2 separate regions of the Homo sapiens genome follow, and region 2 is linked to region 1. Evidence: fine-mapped expression QTL. Tissue or cell type: stomach. Region 1 holds a variant in brackets; the other region holds the start of a gene. All regions are shown on one strand. Distances are from middle to middle.

Evidence for each region. PIP is the estimated chance that this variant, and not a neighbour inherited with it, causes the effect.
Region 2: KALRN starts here. The variant in region 1 is fine-mapped to the expression of KALRN in stomach (GTEx, PIP above 0.99). The same link has a PIP of 0.9 or more in lymphoblastoid cells.

Annotation. Positions count from the first base shown.
Region 1 is chr3:124,629,845-124,637,952 of GRCh38, reverse strand. It overlaps KALRN (kalirin RhoGEF kinase), which reads right to left. Exons shown (of 60, transcript NM_001388419.1): 35 at 5,250-5,533; 36 at 4,000-4,101; 37 at 650-745. Among named protein-coding and RNA genes, the nearest start is that of UMPS, 97 kb to the left of the region's middle. RefSeq lists an enhancer at 2,632-3,133. The variant A/C (reference allele first, on the strand shown) is at 4,665.
Region 2 is chr3:124,028,605-124,036,712 of GRCh38, reverse strand. KALRN (kalirin RhoGEF kinase) reads right to left here and starts at 3,344. Exons shown (of 60, transcript NM_001388419.1): 1 at 2,900-3,344. The coding sequence starts at 2,972. RefSeq lists a silencer at 3,369-3,828.

The DNA.
Region 1 (8,108 bases):
TTATGCCAAAACCCCAAACCTGCTCAGACTCATCACCTATCCCTCCAACGGGCTGATGGGTCCATGAGACAGTCACAGGCTAGACAGGCTGCCAGTGGCTTATGTTCAGTTTTTCCCCCCATTGTAGGGCTAGGCACTGACTCTCTTAATTTATTGTGGTGAGGTATCCACACACTTTTGCCCATTCCCCTTTATAATCAGCAGTCTACTTTTGAAAGACTTTGCACGCTGGAAGGCTACCCAAGTCCCCATAAAATTTCCTAGTGCTGTCAAATATCCAATCAGTGTGTTCTGGGTCTCAGCATCGCGGTGTACTAGCTTCTGGGCTAACCAAATACATATCAATCACTGACTGAATGCCACTTGCCTGTGGGCCGCTGGATCAGGCTTGCAATGAGGTGAGTTTGTCTTGAATAGTTTTCAACTTTCATCAACACTGCAGCCCCCAAATGATGTATTAATTCCCTATACCCATTCCCAAACAAAGTCAAAAAGGACTCTGGGGTACAGCTTTTTAGAAACCATCATTAGCTGCAATCACATAGGAAGAATGAGGACAGGTGCAAAGGAGAAAACGGCAGACAGATGCAAGCCTGGAGCAGTGTGAAGGTGAGACACACACAGAACTGCCTCCAGGACCCCCACTTACCAGCTTGTTTTTGACCAACTTTTCTATTGCATTGACAAGGTCTGCAGCAGTAGGTACTTCAGTGGAAGCCTGCCGGGCTGCTAGCAAAGAGGAGGACTGCAAGACATCGGGCAGCAGAGGAAAAGCAGATTAGCAAAGAATAAGGAACAGTGATCAGGAAATAAAACAGAAAGTCCAAAGCTCAAGCCAGGGAAGGGAAGCAAAGTTCTGTGTTTAGACGGAAGAGGTGACAGAGGGAGAAGAGTGTGGGTGTAATACATACAGGCCTGCCCAACCCCTTATTAGGAATTCTAGCCAGCAGCAAATGGATGGTACTAGGCTATCCTTAGGCAAGCCTATGAAGGAGGGGAGAGGAGAAATCACTGACTTCCTGGGAGGCCTACAGACTAGTGTTGTACCTACTGACAGCAACAGCTTGGAGGGCGGGGGCTACTGCTCTGTGGGCAAACGAGACTTTGGCCACTACACAGCTGCCCGTTGCTGTTTTGGGGTGTGAAGGATTCAACAAACCCAGCCTTGAGTGTGTCCAAAAAAGGGAAACAGTCCTTGCTTTACTACAGCCTTAGATATAGATCTTTATTATGTGTCCAGCAAAAATGCTAGGGGCAGGACCCTTAGAGACCAGCAAGCTAGATACTCCCTTCCTATATTCTCTCCCTCTGTCTTCCTCTCCCGCTCTGCCCCTGACACACATACACCCTTACCCCTCCACAAAGCATAGCTGGCTCTGGTAAGGCCCCTGAACTGGAACACTAGGAAGTAATAAAAGGCTTTAGCAGGAGTCCTGAAGCAGCTAGGAACTACCCTGTTCATAGTAAAGAGAGACGACTCCAGGACCTCCCTGTGTCCCTTTTCCCCTGCACCAGCAGTGAGGAGTTGTCCATGTGGTTGTTTGTGTGGTCAATGGTTTGGGGCTTCCTGCTCACTGAAGGATGGTGGTTTTTTGTTTGGCTTTTTCTTCCTTCTTCTACCTGAGAAGAAACTGGGGGAGAAATAGTTAACCCTGCACCGTTTGTGTGTGCTTTTACTTCCAGCTTATCAGAGCAGGGGGCAGTGGTGTTCCCAAGGCCAGGACATAGGCTCCTTCAAGTTTGCCCCTTGGGTTAGAGAGAAAGTTTCAAAAATGAAGCTTCTCATCTAATCTAAGTTACTTTATTAAGTCTTTGCTTCTGAGATGGGAGGAAAATAATTATAATTAAGGAAGATATAACAATATTCTTTTTCCTCTCTTGGGGACTGCAGGAAAAAGCTTACGTCCATGTGGAAAATCAAGCTATCCTCTTTTTAATCTAGTAATCCTACTCCTGGGAATTTATTCCAAGGACAGAAGTCAAAAGAACAAATGCTGTATATACACAGTGATCTGTATGTAGTAGTATTAGCCATAGTAGCAAACAATGGAAACACCCTGTTAGGATGTCCCCAACAGGCTGATCAAACACATTATGGAACAGCAAATAAGCAAAATTTTCTCCAGCTATTAAAATTACAGCTAGGAAGAAAAAAATTCATGCAATTTTAGGAAATGGTAGTAAATAAAACATTGGACACAACATATGCATATTATAATTGTAAAAGTAAAACGTACACACATAAGAAAAAGATTAGAAGGAAACAAGGAGAAGACAATTGCACAATATTACAACGGTGAACTTTTAAAAATTCCTTTGACAGTGTTGTAAAAATTGTTTTAATACATCCAACTCCATTTGCTAGATGCTCTGAAGTTCATCCCACTCCCAAACATTTATAAAAAACATACAGAAATCAAACAAGCAGGAATAAGGAGAGTTCATGTATCTGAAAGGAGACTGTTGCCATCTGCCCCATTTCTGCATAAGGAAAAGGCTACACAAATAAAGGTAAGTCAGAATTCTGGGTTAAAAATTATCCAGAAACAATGTAACATCCATTTCTGTAAACAAGCTGTGTTTGAGGGAATTAGAGAGAGAAGGTGGTGACCTTATGCAAGTGGGGCCCTTGCACAGAGGGCTGTGTGAGACATGGGCACCCTACTCCTTAGGCCATGATCGCTGTTTATAAAATACATTACAAGTAGGCAGGTCTCATTTCCATCTCAAGGTGAAGCACCAGCACTTCTGTCTCAGGAACCCAGGATGGTATAACACCAGCCTTCCTACTATGTCTCTTCCCAATAATCCAGAGTCAAAGAGCTGGCCCTGAAGACAGGGCCACCAACATCACCTAGGAGGGGCCACGACTAGGTGAGTCACATCATGGGGGCAGCTGCCACATCTCAGAGTCCCTAGACTTTGTCCTTCCGGCCTAGCACAGAGGAAGACTTCAGTTAATGTCTGTGGGTTAACAATTCAAATGCAAAGCAGAGAGAATTAAAATAAGAACTGAGATGTCACCAGAAAGGACACACCCGCAGGAGGCTGTCCCACTACAGGGCAGAGCACTAGAGAGCACAGGAGAGCCTGGAGGGACAGGTAGACAAGCTGCCACATCCACTACCACCACTGCAACAAAACAGCACTTGAAAAAGCAAATGGAAAGTGCCATACAGTCAAAACCCAAACCTGCCGCTTCCACGTCCAGAGTCTAAGAGAATCAGCAACACTTAAGGCAGAAAAAAAAAGGTGATGTGAAAGCAGAGCTGCAAGGAGACTGAGTGACAAGTGAGGGAGAACATAAAGCTGCCCCAAGCCTCGGGTCAGTACCTGGAAGCACGTCTAACCTACGCTTCTGCTCCAGAACAACTGGGATGATCACCGGGTGACTGGAGACACAGGGGGCATCGATATTTCAAATACCAGTGAGCCTATGCATGCCAGCGGGCCGGGGAATCTTGCAAAGCAAAGTCAGGCAATTTCGCATATTAAGTTTGCCCACCTTTGACAATAACTTCCCCTTAGCAGCATCTTCATTCCTCATACCGTCATTGCAAAATTTGACCAACACTGGGCTTGACTGGTAGCTACCATTAGTTAGAGTTTAGAGTTGACTATAGGGAAAACAACTAACATGCAGGTTGTACAGTCAGGTACGACAAAATGGTTGTGGACTGGAACTACCTGGAATTGCTCCTTTTAGGATGTGCTGCTTCCAAAGACAGAGCCATTACCCTTTATCAACAGGACAAGACACCAGGCAGATTCCCACTTTGAGAATTCTGCACACACCCCCTCCACTGCCTAGAATGAAGTTGGACCTCCAGGGTTGGGGAAGGGACACCTACCAAATAGAGACACAATTGGTATCAACATGGATTCATGTGGACGACGAGATAACATGGGAGAAAGAGTATGACTACCCCCATCACACACAAAAAACAAAATCACGCACGGCACGTTGCTCTTTTAAGTGAGCAAGTAAAGAAGTTCTACCATTTCATCCTGTGTAGGGTCGTTGTCAAAAATCTTCATAGGTGGTGGGAGGGGTGTGTGTGACTCTTCATCCGGCTCATCTTCACCCCAACCTTTCTTGCTCTTCTAGAACAAAAGAGCAGCATTAGTTACTGTGTCACAAACATGCCAGTGGTTCTGGACTTGACATTAACAAAAATAATACATAGGAGGAGAGTTCCTCTCTCAACTCACTCTTAACTGTTCAGTCGCAATTTCCTCTTTTGATACATGGATACACCTGCTTATTTCAAATGAGAGTGAGCACCAGTGGGGAACACACACACACACACACACACCCCCAAAAAGAAGCAAAACCAGAAACTATCTATCTTATCGATTAGCAAGAAAAGAAAAAGCTGGAAGTAGTCAGAGAGAGCCTAACTTTTACATTTTTGTAGGGCTATGAAACCATAGCCCAAATGCCGCCAGGCTTAGCTGCCATTTCCAGAGGGAGAAATGGCAGGTAGCATAAAATCACAACAAGAGGGGGTCCAGTTACACATCACAAAGAATTTCTTAGCCACATCAGTGATTAGAGCAGGATTGTGTGCCAAATAAAACAGGTATCTCATTTCCCCAACCAAAACATATCCACTGTCTTTTGGTTACAGAATCTCAGCTTCATCCAGCCTAACTTTGGCTAC[A/C]GTCTCTCAAACCTTCCAGTATGGGCGTTCATTAGTTTTCATGAAGGCCCATTTAATCACTGACTGACTCCTAGATTAAACTTTTTCTTTGAGCGGAAACCCTGCCTATTGTAATCTTCATCTGTTCATCATAGTTATCTGGAGTAACTCTGGATGATCTATTCCTTTTGATGTGTGGCACTGCTCAAGAGACTTGAAAACAGCTACAATCTCCCAGCACAGTCCTGTTTTCAAAATGAAACAATCTTCATTCTTTTATTCTAAATCTAAACAGGTCTAGCTGGTTTTAATGTAGTCCTTAGTAGAGGTAGGGAACTAATGACCAAATGACTCCCCTCAGGCCCAGGTCCTATCTCCAAATCTGGCAAATGGTTTCTGTCTGCTGGAAGTCTTAGGGGCTAGTCAGCTTCTGAATCAGCCACAAATCAAACTGGCCAATGTCTTAAGAATAAAAAGAATCCAAATCACTTAGGCTCAAGGTAACACACTAATGGAGATTTGAGATGGCCTAGTTGACAAAACCTGAGGAAGGAGACATGTCAGAAGGCCCTCCTGATGGACAACTCCAGGGCCCCCTGTAAGTACCTCATCAGCGCTGTCTCCCTGAGGGGTTGTTTCATCCCCAGGCTTGGGAGATCCCAGGTCAAAGCTCTTCCGACCATCGCGAACTTTCTTCTGCTTTTTGATGTTTCCATCTGCCTTCCCGCTGTTAAGCCGACGCACAGGACTCGTCAGCCACTTCTTAAGAGTGTTGGTGGAGCGCTTGGGACCCGGGGAACTGTGGATGGAGTTCAGGGAGGGCTGGGCCTGCAGGTTGGCCACGGACTCGGACTTGCCTCCATTCTCGCTTGAGGAATGAGAGTATGCATCTGAGGAAAACGGACAGACACAGCCATGTCAGAGGTGGTGAAGGCAGGCCGCAAACCTGGGACTGAGACAGCTCCATCCTCAGGAAGCTAGGACACAAGGCAGAATGTCCAGGCCAGCTGTAGACCCCAGTCCAGAGAACCCTCTCAACAACAGTAAGAAAGGCAAACGCTCACTCAATTTTTAAAGTATGAAGCACCATTCCCGGTACTATGGATACAGGAGTGGGCAGAAGACAGAAACTCCTGCCTTCGCGGAGTTTACATTCTGGTGGGAAACACATATAATAGACTATAAAAATAAAATAAGCAAAATGAAAAGTATGACAGGTGGTGAGAAGTGCTACATCAAAACACAAAGTACGGGAAGGGATTAGGGAGTGCTGGGGTTGGAAAAGGGGGTGCAGATTGAAGAGGTGATCAGGGCCAGTCTCATGACATGACATGTGAGCCAAGGCCTAGTGGTGGTGACGCCATCTGGCGAAGGGCCTTCTGGGCGGAAGAGCAAACACAAAGGTCCCAAGGCAAGGCCTGGGGTGGCCTTGGTGGAGTAAGCCGGGGGGATCAGTAAGAAAGGAAGTCAGAAAAGCTACTGGGAGCTGGGTCAACAAGCATGTGGTAAGCCAGTGCTATGCCTCTGGCTTTTACCTGGAGTGAAAACCCACTGGAAGATTCTGAGCCAGAGTGATTCAATCTGGCTTATATTTTTAAAGGTCATTCTGGTTTCTATATTGAGGGCAAGTGGAAATAGGGAAACTGGTTGGGAGGCCACTGCACTATTCCAGGTGAGGGATGTTGGTGGTTTAGAAGTAGGGTGGTCCTAGTGGTTGTTAGAAGTGATCAGATTCTGGAGATGTTTTGCTGGAAGGGCCAATATGAATTGCTGACAGACTATGTGTGTATGGGATATGAAAAAAGAGTCAAGGGTATCTCAGGTTTTGGGTCTGAGGTTAGGATGGGGTTCCTGAGATGTGGAAGAATATAGGAGGAACAGGACTCAGGGAGGAAATATAGGAGTTTAGGTTTAGACATCTTTGAGATGCCCATTAGATACCTGAGTGGAGAAATTGAATAGCAGCTTGCCTTCAAGTCTGGAGCTCAGGGGAGAAAGTGCTGGTGAGCTGGAGATAATTGCAGAGTTGTCAGAGGAGAGATGGGGTTGGAAGCCATGAAGCTGGGTGAGATCAGCGAGAGGCATGGGTATGGATAAAGACAAAGTCCAAAGACTAAGCCAGAAGCAGGAAGACGAGAGGACAAGAAAGTAGCCAGTGAGGTAGGAGTAAAACCAGGAGGGTGGGGTGTTCTGGAGGCTGCACGTGGAAAATGTCTTACAAAGGGAGAAATCGGCGTGTCAAATGCTGCCTGATAGGTCAGGAGAGTTGACCTAAGAATTAAGTCTTAAAACTGAGCAACATGGAGATCATTGGTGACTTTGAAAAAAGCAGCTGTAGTGGAATGGAGGGGGCCATGGCCTAATTAGAGAGGATGCAAGAGCATGGGTGTGAGAAACAAGACAGAGTATAGAGAATTCTTGTACTGTTTTAAAGGCACAGTGATTGGAGAACAAGAGTTTGTTTTGTTTTGTTTTGTTTTTTAAATCTCAGCATATTGTTTGTAAGCTGTATGCCATATATTGACTATTTTCAATCGTATATGCTTGCAATAGCCTAAACATTTTATGTGGACTATCATTTCATTCTCCGTATAACTCTATGAGGTAGGTTCTGTCATTATCCTCATTTTACAGAAGAAGAAACTGCAGACTTAAAGAGTTAACTTGCTTAAGGACATACAGCTCATAGGGGCAAGGTGAAATCTGAACTGCAGACAGCCAGACTTGAGCACTAAACTACACTACTGGAGCCGGGTGTGGTGCCTCATGCCTGCAATCCCAGCTACCCAGGAGGCTGAGGCAGGAGAATCACTTGAACCCAGGAGGCGGAGGTTGCAGTGAGCCAAGATCGCACCACTGCACTCCAGCCTGGGTGACAGAGGGAGACTCCATCTCAAAACAAACAAACAAACAAACAAACAAACAAACACTACTGGGCCTTTCATGTCTACACCCGCCCAGTTCTCTAGGCTCCCTCTGAATATGGGGTTAGGGATGAGGTTTGAGGAAGAGCAAGTCCAGGGAAAGCCACGCTGCCATGGAAGAATAGAGAGGCTAGAACAGGCATGTGGCAGATGTGGGCATGCAGGAAAACCACATTGAGCAAACTTTATTTAATTTTCCCTAAATCCTTGATTTCTGAATACTCATTAAACTCGGAGGAGATCAGCATTAGCATCTACCTACCTTGGCTTTAGAGAATAGTTTTGAGTTATTCAAAAGAAAGCCCTTTAAGTCCACTTCAGATGTCTTCCTAGTTCTCAGTGCTTGTTTCTACCAGTATTGAGAAAGCTGGGCATTCGAAAGTTGCACAGGAGCATCAGCATGCAAATCAAGATCCTCAGTGAAAATTCCTAAGTAATAATTATGTCATGGAGCACTGATTAGGTCATGTATTATAAAGATATATAAGACAGATTTTTATTTTCGCAGACCTCTTACCTAGCTATACATAGATATCCATAC
Region 2 (8,108 bases), 600 kb after region 1:
TAACCCTGGTGCTAGGGACTTTGAAAATTTGTTTGAAGCTTTCTCAGTTGTTCAATAGAATACATTTATAATCTATCCAGCCTATCAGGTATAGTGCTATATTCCACAGAGATGGGAAATCAGAAGGGAGAAGGTTTAGAAACATGGCTTTTCTAAGCTTAAGAATCTCCACCAACGCATATGCATATGTTCATTGCAGCACTGTTCACAATAGCAAAGACATGGAATCAACCTAAATGCCCATCAATGGCAGACTAGATAAAGAAAATGTGGTACATGTACATCATGGAATACTATGCAGCCATAAAAAAGAATAAGATCATGCCCTTTGCAGCAACATGGATGGAGGTGGAGGCTGTTATCTTAAGCAAACTAACGCAGGAACAAAAAACCAAATACTTCATGTTCTCACTTATAAGTGAGAGTTAAACAATGAAAACACATGGACACAAAGAGAGGAATAACAAACACCGGAGCCTACTTGAGGGTGGAAGGTGGGAGGACAGAGAAAATCAGAAAAAATACCTATCAGGTACTATGCTTATTACCAAGGTGATGAAATAATCTGTATACGAAACCCCTGTGACACACAGTTTATCTATATAACCCATACATGTACCCCTGAACCTAAAATAAAAATTAACAACAAAAAATAAAAATAAAAAGAAGAAGAAGAATCCCCAGCAAGAGCCTAGGCTAGAGACCAGAAGTGTGGTGACAGTCAGTGAGCCAAGCATAGAGGGCCACACAGGGTGGATGTAGTCCTTGACCTACCCCCTCTTGCAACATGTTACAGGTCATCAGTCATTTCCAGCCTCATGCACCAATGACTTAACCTTTCTCTGATACTAAGTGCACATCAGACTTAGCTCAGCCACTGGGCTGCCCAAGGAGGAGGGAGAATATCCCCAACATAGGAATCCCACAGGAGACTGACCCCAGTCTGCTATTTATTCTGTGATTTGAGCCAGGGTTAGATAATGTGTGCCACACCTTGTGTTTTGAAAGGCCCTGGGAAAAGTAACACATTGGACTATTATTGGCCATTAACACTGTGTGAATTTATTATCAGAAATAAGCAAGCCTCCAGGAACTGAGCTCTGCTACGGGTGCCTGGAACAGAAAATGAACAGGACCTAGTGTTTGGATGATAGGAAAGGGGAAAGAGGAGTGGGCACCAAAAGGTAAAAGTGGAGTCCAGAAAGGGAAGGTGGGAAGGCTCACACTTCAAGATTTTTCCCTCAGAGCTAAGAAAATGCAGACTTTTGCCCCAGTTGGGAGGCAAGGGGGGTCAGCTGGGTTTTTGATTGACTGGTCAATTTGTTTCTAGTCCCAGTTATGAATTCCCATATCTCCCCTCCTCTGCCTCATAATGAGTATTTCTGAATATCACTTAGCCCCCAGAACCACCTTTTCCCTAGATTCCACCTCTTTAGAATCCATGCTTTTGGGTGCTGGGCTGTGTGTGTATGAGAGAGAGAGAGAGAAGAAAGAAAATAGAATCCATGTCTCGGAAGAGGAAGGAGGGAAGGAAGGAGGAAGAAAGAAAAGGAAAGAAGGCTTAGACCTGGGAAGCAGAATAGAATGACAGGGCTCCCTCTGATTTCCCCAGACCCTGGCACCAGCTCCTGTCCTCCAGTTTTTTCCTCTGCACATCAACTAGAGAATGAACATATGAGCCAATCAAGTCTTGACTTCCAAAGCCACAAGTCTCCCCCGCAAAGCACCCCACCCCCTTCCCTAGAGATGACCTCCAGGGCAAGGTAACAGGGTTAGGAAACAGATGGATGTGCAGAGACCCTCCAGAGCTAACCTGACCCCTGACCCCCACCAGTTCATGTCCTCTAATCCAACTTTCCAGAAGGGAGAGCAGATGCATGGGGCCCCGGTAACTTACTGGACTCCTTGGGACAAAGATTCCAGACAAAACTGTTTCAGACATGTGGGGAGATGGGGAGCTACACACAGAAGCTGGTGGAAGCCACAGGTACAGGGAGACGGGGAATCCCTGGCCATCAGAGAAACAGGGCCACAGGTGGTGGAAGATAAGGGTGGTCAGTGCCGGTTCTAGGGAGGGACTGTGTAGCCAGGGAGCAGGAGGAGCAATGGACCCGGGACTTGGACGATGGCAGGGGCGCAAAGAGCTAGAAAGACATCTCAGGGCTCTACACCTCACAGCAAGCAGAGACTTAGTGGGTGTGTATGAGAGGGACGCTAACTCACACTTCCAGGAATGAGTAATTCTTATGAATAGCTCCTCCGTTCCCAGAACTGAAGAGGAGGACAAGGGGGAGGTCCGAGGCGCCCACCGCCCTCCCAGCTGGGTCTGCCTCTCAAGTCAGAGGGACCAGCTCCCCACACGCACCAGGCGAGACCGATGTCTTCCGCCCCACTCCTGTCAGTCTGCAGCCGGCGCGGCTCCGGGTCCCCGCCGCCCCTCTGTGCACATCAGGGCCCCGGGCCCCCGACGGCGAGGAGGGGTGCCGACCCAGGGCGGCCGCCGGGAGCCCCGCTGACAGGCACAGGGGAGGGGGAGCCAAGGGAGGGGCCGGGACGCCGGTAGCCGGAGCGGCGCGCTGCAAAGTGAGCCAACACCGCCCATCCCCGCGCTCTGGGAGAAGGCGGTCCGAGGGGACCGCCTCCCACCTCCCCAACACAGACTCCCGCAACTGGGGTGAAGGCGGAGGGGCGCGGAGTTCCCAGCCCCCACGCCCTCCCCAGACGCAGCCAGCACTGCCATAACAACCAGAATCTCGGCAACTCCAGCCCCGACGCCGAGGGGGCACTGCCCCCCAACACGCACGCGGCAGCAACAGCCCTCCTTCCCCAAACTTGTCCGAGACGCCGCGTCCGAGGCAGTAGCCTTCAGCCCTGGCCCCCCGCGCCCTGCCCGGCTTACCTGTCCGGAAAAAGGCGTCCACGTCCGAGTCTGCTGCTCCTCCTTCCTCCGCTGCTCCCTCAGGGGGGTTCATGACTGTGGGAGGGCGTCCGCGGGCAGCCGGGAGCCGAAGAAGCCTGGGGCCGAGGGCTGCTCGGCGCCCGGTGGGCGGAGGGCGCGGGGCGCAGCTGCTGCGGCCGCAGAGCTGGCGGCCGCGGAGCTTCGAGGGCGGGCGTTGGGCGGCGGGGCTGGGGCAGAGGACGCTGAGCCTCCCTCAGGCGGAGGCGCGCGGCGGGCTGGGGGTGCCTGCCGCCAGCTCCCCCATGGTACCCCTTCCCCAGGGCGCTGGCCGCCTGCTGTCTGGCTGGGGCCGGGGCCCGGGGCCGGGGTGCGGGCTGCCTGGGCGCCCGCTGTCCCCCAGCAGCGGCAGCTGGCTCTCCTGCTCGCCCGTCTGCCTGTCTCTATTGTTCAGCCCTGCTCCGCTCTCTCCTCTTTATTTTTCCTCCTCCCTCCCACCCTCCCTGTCTCCCTACCTCCTCCCTCCCTCGCTCACTCGCTCACTCGCTACCTCCCTCCTTCGCTCGCTCGCTCTCTAGCTCCCCCTCTGGCTCCCGCCGCCGCCGCCGCCGCAGCAGCCGCCTCCCCAGCTCCTCCCCCGGCTCCCGCTCCCTCAGTCCCGGCCAACAATGACCCCGGGAGCGCCGAGCTGAATTGAAGCTCCGGCCGGGGCCGAGGGCTCGCTGCGGGCCCCCGGCGGCGCCTACGCCCCCAGTCCCAGCGGCCCCGCGCCGGCCTCCCGGGGAGCGGAGCCCGAGTCCCGAGCTATTGTTCGAGGCTGTGCTAGGCCGGCTTCCTGAGCTCCGCAGGAAAAGCCCGGGCCAGGGAGGGGGCGGGGCCGCCGGGCGAGCCCGGGGCTGCAGGGCACACGCCAGGCTTGTCCAGGGGGCTCTGCGGCCCGGGCGCTGCGCGCTCAGCTTCTCCGCTCGCGCCGCCGGTGCTCCTCCCGGCCCCGCGGCCACCTCCTCCGTCCACTCCACTCCCAGGTGTGTGAGGGGACCACCAGGCTGCCCGCCCGCCTTCTCTGGATCTTCAGATCGGTCTCCAAGCTGGACTGACCTGTCCCTAGAGGCCGGCCTTTCTTCCCCTCCTTCCTGACGAGCTCTCTTCTGTCTCCCTGCCCTCCTGAGCCTCTCACATTTTCCTCACCAGCTCGCCACAGTTTCTCTCCTTTTTATCTTTTCTCGTCCTTTTCCCCTTTTCAGCGCCCCTTTAAACATCTCCGCCTGTCTCTGTGACTCTTTGTCCAGTTTAATGCTCCTGTGATGTCTCCCTGCCTATCTCTCCCTCCCTCCGTCACTCTCTTGTCCCTCGTTTGTCTCTGTCCTGCCTCCGTACTTGGCCCGTATCTCCGCGCTCCTCTTGGACAGCTGTCAAAACTCTCTAATCCCTGGGGCCTTCTCGGTTTTGTTCTCCCTCATGTGAATGGAGAGATCCAGTTGGCCAGGAGGAAGGAGGTGTTACAGCAAGCTGAATTTCAATTAAAGTGGGGAGAGGGGCTGGGGAGGAATGGGGATGGCTGCAAAAAAGAAAACAGATGCTGTATGGGGTAATTAATGCGGTGATTGTATTGTGCCCATCAGTTTTTAAGCAATAATTAAACAATAATTAGCCAGTAGTGTGTTTATGGTTCTAGTGACTACAGAGCCCACCAAACAGAGGGTCTTTAAGACCTGAGTACTTAATAAGGTCTGCTGAGCGCTGTTCGCTGTTGCCTCATCCAGACAGATGGAGAAGTGGTGGCCTGACCTAATGTGTTAAAACACGCCTAATAGGAAAACCAGGTACTGGTCTGAAGTTAATGACTGCAACCCATCAGACAGAATCTCCTGGATCTGTTTGTCTCTAGTAACCTGTTTGGTTCCACCTCTCTCTGGGGGCCAAGGCAACTGGGGCCTATGCAGATCCACCAACTGTGTAAACTTGTAGCAAATAAAATGAATTAAATTAGTTTTTAGTGAACACTTTCTGGCTCCCTGTACGCATCACGTTCTTCACTGACACAAACAGTCTAATTTTTTTTCACCCATTAAAAAAAAGTACCTGTTTCCAACCTTGGATACACCTATCAGACCTGTCTCCAACCTTGAGTACATCTATCAGACCTCTGTAGTGACTCTGACATCACAAGTTCACTGCCCTGAGATCTAATTCATCTGGCCCTAGTATCTTGAACTGGCTTAAGATGCCCCTTTGCCTATGCCTTTTCTGACAATGAAAATACTTCTCATTTGTCTTTTCAAAATCTTCCTTCCCCTTAATCCTTTGCCTAACCCCTGGTCTGCTCCCCTACCCCCGCACACACATATGTGATGGCAGAGCTGCTATTAATTAATTGCCACCATTGTGCAGCTAAAGAACCAGTGGCCTGGCAAGGCATTAGCTCATCACAATTCAGAAGAAACATTACATGTTTAGAGGAAGGGTCATATCAAAATCTCAAGATATAGACAAGAAAGGGGGAACACCTTATGTAATGACACAAACTTTTTTTGAGAGGAAATTTGGCAACTTCTATTAAAATGTTAAGTGTTCATGGCTATATTAATATCAAAGAAGACTTCAAAGCAAAGAATATTACCAGGGATAAAGAGGAACATTTCAATTCATCAAGCAGACGTAACAATCCTAAGAGTGTTTGCACCTAATAAGATAGCTTCAAAGTACATGAAGCAAAACTGATAGGATTGCAAGGAGAAATATAAAAATTTATAATTATAGTCAGATAATTTAATATCTGTAAAATGCAGTAATTAATAGAATAAGGAGACAGATCATCAGTAAAGATATGGAAGACTTGAACAATGTTATCAACCAACCTAACCTAACTGACATTTATAGAATATTCCACTCCATAACAGCAGATACACATTTTTTCAAATGCACAGGTAGCATTTGTCAAGATAAACCATACACTAAGCCATAAAACAAATCTCAATAAATTTAAAAGGATTAAAATCATGCAAAGAGGTACATAAATTATACCTAAGTTGGTTTTTAAAAAAAAATCAGAGTATGTTCTCTGACCACAATAGAATTAAACTAGAAATCAATAACAAAAAGAATCTAGAAAAACCTCCCAAATATTTGGAAAGTAAATAACACACTTCTAAATAACACATGAGCTACTAAGAATTCAAAGGATGGGCTGGGCACCATGGCTCATGCCTATAATTCTAACACTTTGTGAGGCTGAGGCCAGGGGATCACCTGAGGCCAGGAGTTCAAGACCAGACTGACCAACAGGGCAAAACCCATCTCTACTAAAAATACAAAAATTAGCCGGACATGGTAGCGTTTGCCTGCAATCCCAGCTACTCTGGTGGCTGAGGCATGAGAATCACTTGAACCCAGGAAGCAGAGGTTGCAGTGAGCCAAGATTGTGCCACTGCACTTTAGCCTGGGTGACACAGTGAGACTTTGTCCCCTGCCACCCCCACCAAAAAAAGAATTAAAAGGGGGATATTAGAAAGAATCTCAAAGTGAATAAAAATGAAAACACATTACATAAAAATCTGTGGGATGCAGCTAAGGCAGTCTAAATCTGTGGGATGCAGCTGAAGCAGAAAGACATTTATAGTGCTAAATACCTATTTTGAAAATAAAGATCTCCCATCAATAAGCTCCTATTCTACTGTAAGAGCAAACGAAATCAAAGTGGAAGAACAGAAATAAAAAAGATCAGAGCAGAAGGCAATAAAATAGCAGGAAAACAAAAGAAAAAAATCAATGAAACTAAAGTGGGTTCTTTAAGATCAATAAAATAAAAAAACCTCCACCCAGACTGATCAGAAAATAAGAGAAAAATCTCAAATTACTGCTAGCAGGAATGACAGAGGTAACATCACTACAAATTCTATAAATGTAAAAATAATAATAAGGGAATATTATGAACAACTTTATGCCAACAAATTTGACAACTTTCATAAGATGGACACAAACTACTAAAGTTCACTCAAGGAGAAATTGCTAACTTAAATAGCTATTTATCTACTATAGAAATTAAATTTGTAGCTTAAAAGCTTTCCCCACACACACCCACACACAAAACAACTCAAGATTCACATGGGTTTTTTGGTAAATTTATGAAACATTTAAGGAAGAAATAATATCAATTCCACAAAAACTCTTCCAGAAAAGTGAAAAGGAGGAAATATTTCCCAACTACTTCTATGAGGCCAGCATTACTCTGATGCCAAAACTAAACAAAGGCCATATAAGAAAAAAAATGTAGACTACTTCCTTAGGAATATTTATTAGGAATAAAATTTTTAATAAAATTTTAGCAAATAAAATCTACAATATATAAAAAGGATAATACATCATAACCAAGTGGGTTTATCCCACATATACAAGGTTGGTTTCACATTTGGAAAACTATTCAATGTAACTTACCACATGATATGGGTTGAATTGTATTCTCAAAAAAGGTATGTTAAAGTCCTAACCCCTGGTAGCTGTGAAAGTGGCCTTATTTGGAAATAAGGTGTTTGCAGATATAATCAAATTTGGAATGTGGTCACTAGGATGGACCCTAATCCAATATGACTGGTGTCCCGATAAGAAGAAAAAAAAATTCCATATGAAGACAGAGAAGACAGAGACACATAGGGAAAAATGCCATGTAATGGCAGAGGCAGAGATTGGAGTGACGCAGCAGCAAAGAATACCAAGAATTGACAGCCACCACCAGAAGCTAGAAAGAGGTAAAGAAAGATTCTCCCCAGAGTCTCAGAGGGAGCATGGCCATTCTAACACTTGATTTCAGACTTCTTCTCTTCAGAACTGTGACAGAATAAATGTCTATTATTTTAAGCTACCCAGTTTGCACTACTTCGTTACAGCAACCCTAGGAAACCAATATACCATATTTAAAAAGCAATACAAGTCCGAGTATGGTGGCTTACGCCCGTAATCCTAGCACTTTGGGAGACCAAGGTGGGCAAATCCCTTGATCCCAGGAGACTGAAACCAGCCTGGGCGACATGGCATAACCCATCTCTACAAAAAATACAAAAAGTAGCCGGACATGGTGGCATGAAAGTCAGATCATGTCTCAAAAAATAAAATAAAATTTAAATTTAAAAAAGCGATACCATGTGATCATCTAAGTAGATGCAGGAAAATAATTTGACAAAAATCCAATATCCATTTCTGAACAAAACTCTCAGCA